Linked DNA regions of Homo sapiens: region 2 is linked to region 1. Evidence: fine-mapped expression QTL. A gene starts in region 1. The other region holds a variant in brackets. All regions are shown on one strand. Distances are between the middles of the regions.

Region 1 (2,915 bases):
ACAAAGACCTCATCCACTTCATCTCTGTATATCAAGCACATAGCACAGTCCAAAGGTCTGGGTAGGCAAATCAAGAAAAGACTGTTTACTCTTGATTCATCCAGTCCATTATTTTCACCCTTGGTGAACTAGGTTCAACCCCAATCACTGCCAAGTTGTTTTCTGAAAATTCACCAATGACCCTGTTCTCAGCAAGGTCGTGAATCACTGATAGACTCTGGAAGAGTGGAGTTTCCTTATCTTTGTATTCCCAAGGTGCTTAGTGAGGTAGCTTCCACACAGTAATCACCCATTAAAGGTCTGTCAACTTGAATAAGAAAGAAAATATGAACTGAGAGGACAGAATAGTCACTGCTGATCAGCAGGTCACGGATATTTCCTGAAATAAAAGTACCAAAAAAAAAAATCTGGAGACTGTTATCTCTATCGTTCCCAGATTCTAGTTTCCATAGCAAACTGTTCATTTAAACGAGAAGTGCAAACATCTCACCAAATTATCTTGGTCAAAGGCATGGAGAGTGAGTACGGGGAAGGGGGGCTCCCTTACCATGGGATAAAATCAATAGCACGTAAAACACATTAGGCTTTAACCCCAACCTTGGGCCAGGAGGGAGGCTGGTAGCTTGCAGAATGCACCCCAAGAAACTCCTTCCCCACCTTCTATTTTCTAGCGGCCCAAGTGAGATGTGGAAAGGTCCGCACCCTGCGGGCCGGCTGTGACTTGAAAACAGAGCCACTGGGCACCCCAAAAGCTTGCGTGCCGTGCCTGTGCGGAGCAAGGCCCCTTCAGCGCGGAGCTCCAAAGGCGCTAAGCCGGGCAGCCGGGTCGTCCTGAATCTGCGGGCTGCACACGCCCGCCGGGAGCTGCAGCGCCCGGAGCCCAGCAGAGCGGCCGCCGGCCGCAGCCGCAAACGCGTGGGGTGCAGGGCCGCGCCACCGCGGGGGAAAGACACGAAGAGGAGCTGAGGAACCGAGCGGGCAGAGACCACGAGAGGCCCCAGGTCGACGCCGCGCGCGCGGGCCCGGAAGAGACGGTCACGTGACACCGACCTGCTGGTCCCACTGCTGCTTCACATGTACGCCGGCCACTGTGGCCGCCGTCAGCAGCACCGAGAGGCCCAGCACCACCTTCGAGCTCCTAGACATCCCCACGCTGGCGGCCGCGGCCTCTCTCTCCCGCCCGCCCGAGGCGCAGAGGCCGCCGCAGAGTGCGCACCGCCGCCTGTACTGCCCAGGCTCGACCCCTCGAGCGCAGAGCCCCAGCCGTCGCGTGCGCCGCTCGCCGCTGCCAGGCGTGAGCAATCGAGAGCCGAGCATAGAGCGGCGCCCAGGCTCTACGAACTCTTGGCTTCACTAGGGGCCTCCTGCACACCCCGCAGGCGACAGCGTTAGACCACCCCCGATTCAAATTCTAGGAGTCCCGGCCCAAACTGGCCCCGGCACCTTACCAGGGTGGAGGGTGGGGGTTCCATGCCCCTCAGTCAGTTCAGTACCAACCTCACCCCGGGCGGGGTCTGGATACCGTGCTGACCCCTCTCCCACAGACGTCCCTTCTGAGCCCCTGACTGATCCAGAAGCTTCGCCCAATACCGGCTTCGCCTAAACGCAGCCCCCTCATTGCTCCTTTGGCGGGGCAGGCGCCACCAGGAGACCGCCTCGTTAGGCAGCTTCAGAGGCGCGGGGTTCCCATCCGTGGAGTTTTTGCCTGAGGACCCATTATTAAACGCTGTAGTCGCGGTCACCTGGTTTCACCTTGACGCTGTGGGGCGACTGGTCAGGCTCGGATTATTATTATTATTATTATTATAATTTTGATACAGAGTCTCTGTCTATCGCCCAGGCTGGAGTGCAGTGGCGCGATCTCGGCTCACTGCAACCTTACCGGATTCAAGCGATTCTCCTGCCTCAGCCTCCCGAGAGGATTACAGGCGTGAGCCACCGCGCCTGGCCCCATGTAATCTTTGTGATCACTTTTACACCCAAGTTTCCGCGCCAGTAATACAAGGGAAATAAATGATATAAAGAAGTCTTGCGTTGGGAATAGTTAAGCAATTGTGCAAGACGCATTTTCACTTCTTCCTCGGGTAAAAAAGGCAAGGCCTCCCAGAAACTTTTAAGTATCTGATAGAGCAACCAGTGAAAACGTGTTCATCATTCAATCATTCTTTCCCACTAGAATTCACAGAGAACGAGCTTCTTCCGGTGGACACGGCTATAGGCAGTATTGATTAAGCCTCACCAGGGAGTTTTACAACATTCATTACTGTTCATAGTGCTTTGCTATTCCAGTCTCTTATGTGAGCGTAAATGGCATAAGGGGACTATTGCTCTTAAAGGTATCTTTAAAGATACCTTTTCCAAATGTCATTTTGTCCACAGCATTTTTTGCAGCCTAGAGAGAATGTACCACTGAATTGGAAAATGGAGTTCTTGCTGTAATGAACTTTGAGAAGAAATTCAGTTCAGGGTGTATTTGCATATTTCTCTTTAAAAATTATATTAGACTTCTTTTTATTCGTGGTATATCCTAGATATTTTCCCCTGTAAATCAGTGAGCCTTCAACAGAGCTGTATGTCCTTAGAGTGTACATCAGGGAATTAGATCAATCGCCTTTCATTTTATTGTGACTAATTTTTCAACTTGTTTTCTTGAAATGTACTCTTTTCTTTATTTTCAGGATACTAGAAGCAAAAAAAAAAGTATTCTACTTTTAAGAAATCATTTATTATTAACTGTGTCAAATAAAAAAGTGGGTTGGGGGACTGAGGGAGGTCTTGCAAAAAAAAAAAAGTATGTTTATCTGTTTAAATATTTATAAGCCTAAGCAGTATATTTTCCGTGATTATTGTCGCATAAATTACTGATTTGTGAGAGTGACTGCATATCATCAAACTGAGAAGCAACTATTTTTTTC
Region 2 (2,915 bases), 36 kb after region 1:
ATGAAGTTTAACAAATGAATACTTTCATGAAGCTGCCACCCAGATCACAATATATTTCTAGCACCCCCAGAAGACTCCTTTATGTCCCCTTCCAGTCCTGTCCTGACTGTATCATCTCAATTTGGCCCATTTTGAACATTATGCAGATGGAATCATACAGTGTGCTCTCTTTTGTGTCTGTCCTCTTTCACTTAATATTACATCTGAGACTCATCCGCGCTATTGCATGTTCCAGTAGTTTGTTCTTTTCCAGTGCTGGGTAGTGTTTCCCAGTGTGAACCAACATACCACAATTTGCATGCCTGCTCTGCTCATAATGGACTTTTGGGAGGCTACCTGTTTAGGCTGTTATAAATACACCTTCTATGAACATTCTTATACATATTTTTTAAATTATTTTTGTTCATTTGACTTTTTGGTGTGCAATTCTATGGATTTCAACATGTGTATAGATCTATGTAACTACCACAATATCAAGATATAGTTGGTTCTATCACCCCAAAAACTCTCACCTACTGTCCCCTTAGAATCACAATCCCCTCCCCTTTCCCCAGTCCCTTACAGCTACTGATCTGTCTTCCATTACTATGGCTTTGGTCTTCTTGAGAATGCCATATAGATGGAATCATATAGCATGTAACTGTTGGAGACTGGATTCCTTCACCAAGATAATTCCTGTGGTATTCACCAACACAACAGGCATGCACCACCATAAGTTCGTCTCTGTCAACAACAGATCATATATATGACGGTGGTTCCATAAGATTATAAAACCTTATTTTTCCTGTACCTTTTCTGGTTTAGGTATGTTTAGATATACACAAATACTTATTTATCAGAACCTATCCCTGTCACTACACAGCGCCTGTCTGTACATTCCTTTTTATTGCTGACATTACTACAAGTCTTTGATGGACAGACTTCTACTGGTATAGTCAAGGGAGTGGAATTGCTTGATCGTAGGGTCTTCATATGTTTCACTTTAGCAGGTACAGCCAAATCGTCTTCCAAAGTGGTTGAGCCTGCAACGTAAAAGAGTTCCGATTGCTCTCTGCCTTCTTCACCATTTAGGAAGTATTCTGGTCAGTGTGTAGGTAACATTTTAGCTATTTTTGTGTGTGTGCATATAAATTACCTTTTAAGATTTGCCATAAATCATACAAAGAATTAGCCATCCTCTGCAGCAGATGCTGTTGGTGCCTGCGTGGACCCCTGGGATTCCTTTTACTGCCCCCAGCTGCTGCAGATGCGGTTGCTAAGGCTCACACCTTCAGCTTTATCCAGTGCTGCTCAGCAGTTGGGGCTGCCACACAATTTTCATCCTACCCCCCATCTCCCAAACACACACACGAGGCAGACAG[G/A]TTCACAATGTTGCAACTTATACTTCAGAGCTCCTGTGGGATGAGGCTGAGACAGGACTTCACCTGAATCCACATGCCTGTCTGGCTTTTCCTCCGGGCCCAGCCTACTTCCCTCACTCCCTTACAACACTTCCCTGTGAGCACTCTCCCAGTAAAGCCTTTGCACAAGCATCCCCGTTTTCAGCTCTGTTGCTAGGGAACCTGGCCCAGGACACTTTTGCGGCATCCATTTCTCCATCCTCCTTCTCCAAAGGCCCCACTTTCCACCTACAGGCTGTCTAGTTAGAAAAACATTTGACTGCAACTAACAGAAAACCTGATAAGCAATAGCTTAAACAAACAACTGTTTGTTTTTTTCCCGCAAACAGCTATAGCCTCACCATGACAAGTGCCAATTCAGTTACAGGTTTCCAGGCAGAAGCATGAGATAAATGAAATCACTCTCGATCCTCCCCTTGCCCTTCCAGCCCCTGCCACCCCTGTAAGTCCCTCCTAGTTTCTCCCTCTTCCCAGGCCCCCAGCTCTGAGGCCCAGTGACCTCTGAAATGCTCACGCCAGCCATTTCCAAAGAGTGTCCCCTAAGAATGTTCAGGTTCTTGGGGTGCTTCAATGACTCAGCATGCATAAATTAATATTTTATGCCAAATAGTAGAAAATTTTAAATCCTGACTAGTAATTTTTATCACTAGTCTAGTTAATAACTGGGCAGTTAATTTCATTAAATTTTTCTTTTTCTTTCTTTTTTCTTTGAGACAGAGTTTTACTCTTGTTGCCCAGGCTGGAGTGCAATGGCATGGCTTCGGCTCACTGCAACCTCCGCCTCCCGGGTTCAAGCGATTCTCCTGCCTCAGCCTACCAAGTAGCTGGGATTACAGGCATGCGCCACAACGCCCAGCTAATTTTGTATTTTTAGTAGAGACAAGGTTTTCCCATGTTGGTCAGGCTGGTCTCAAACTCCCAACCTCAGGTGATCGCCCGCCTCAGCCTCCAAAGTGCTGGGATTACAGGCGTGAGCCACAGCGCCTGGCCTATTTTCTTTACATTTTTCAAGACATCTTTCTAATTTTGTCTCCTCATAAGAAATGCTCAGGCCGGCACAATGGCTCATACCTGTAATCCCAGCACTTTGGGATGCCGAGGTGGGCAGATCACCTGAGATTGGGAGTTTGAGACCAGCCCAGCCAACATGGTGAAACTCTGTTTCTACTAAAAATACAAAAATTAGCTGGGCATGGTGGTGCACACCTGTAATCCCAGCTACTGAGGAGGCTGAGGCAGGAGAATCGCTTGAATCTGGGGGGCAGAGGTTGCAGTGAGCCAAGATTGAGCCATTGCACTCCAGCCTGGGCAACAGAGTGAGGCTCCGTGTAAAAAAAAAAAAAAAAGAAAAGAAAAAGAAAAGAAATGCCCAGATAAACTCATTCATTCTCAGGTATTAATAACATTTACTAATTCTTGGTTCAATTTGTGTTTATAGAGGGCATGACCTAGGATCTGAATCAGTTGTGGGGTTTACAAATATGGATAATATATTGGCCTCTTTTAAAAGGCCCT

Alleles and levels. Positions count from the first base shown, and alleles are read on the strand shown. Sizes are in standard deviations (SD) of each study's normalised expression.
For the expression in prefrontal cortex of the gene that starts at base 1,239 in region 1, G is the low allele of the variant in region 2 and A is the other (small effect, 0.23 SD a copy in GTEx).

What was found. PIP is the estimated chance that this variant, and not a neighbour inherited with it, causes the effect. A credible set is the group of variants that fine-mapping cannot tell apart.
Region 2: its variant is the best candidate, but not a certain one, in a credible set for the expression of KAT14 in prefrontal cortex (GTEx, PIP 0.54).

What each region holds. Positions count from the first base shown.
Region 1 is chr20:18,136,187-18,139,101 of GRCh38, reverse strand. It overlaps KAT14 (lysine acetyltransferase 14), which reads right to left and starts at 1,239. Exons shown (of 11, transcript NM_001392073.1): 1 at 1,051-1,239. It overlaps PET117 (PET117 cytochrome c oxidase chaperone), which reads right to left and starts at 1,239. Exons shown (of 2, transcript NM_001164811.2): 1 at 1,051-1,239. The coding sequence starts at 1,146. RefSeq lists a silencer at 751-870.
Region 2 is chr20:18,100,231-18,103,145 of GRCh38, reverse strand. No RefSeq gene overlaps it. Among named protein-coding and RNA genes, the nearest start is that of KAT14, 36 kb to the left of the region's middle. The variant G/A (reference allele first, on the strand shown) is at 1,362.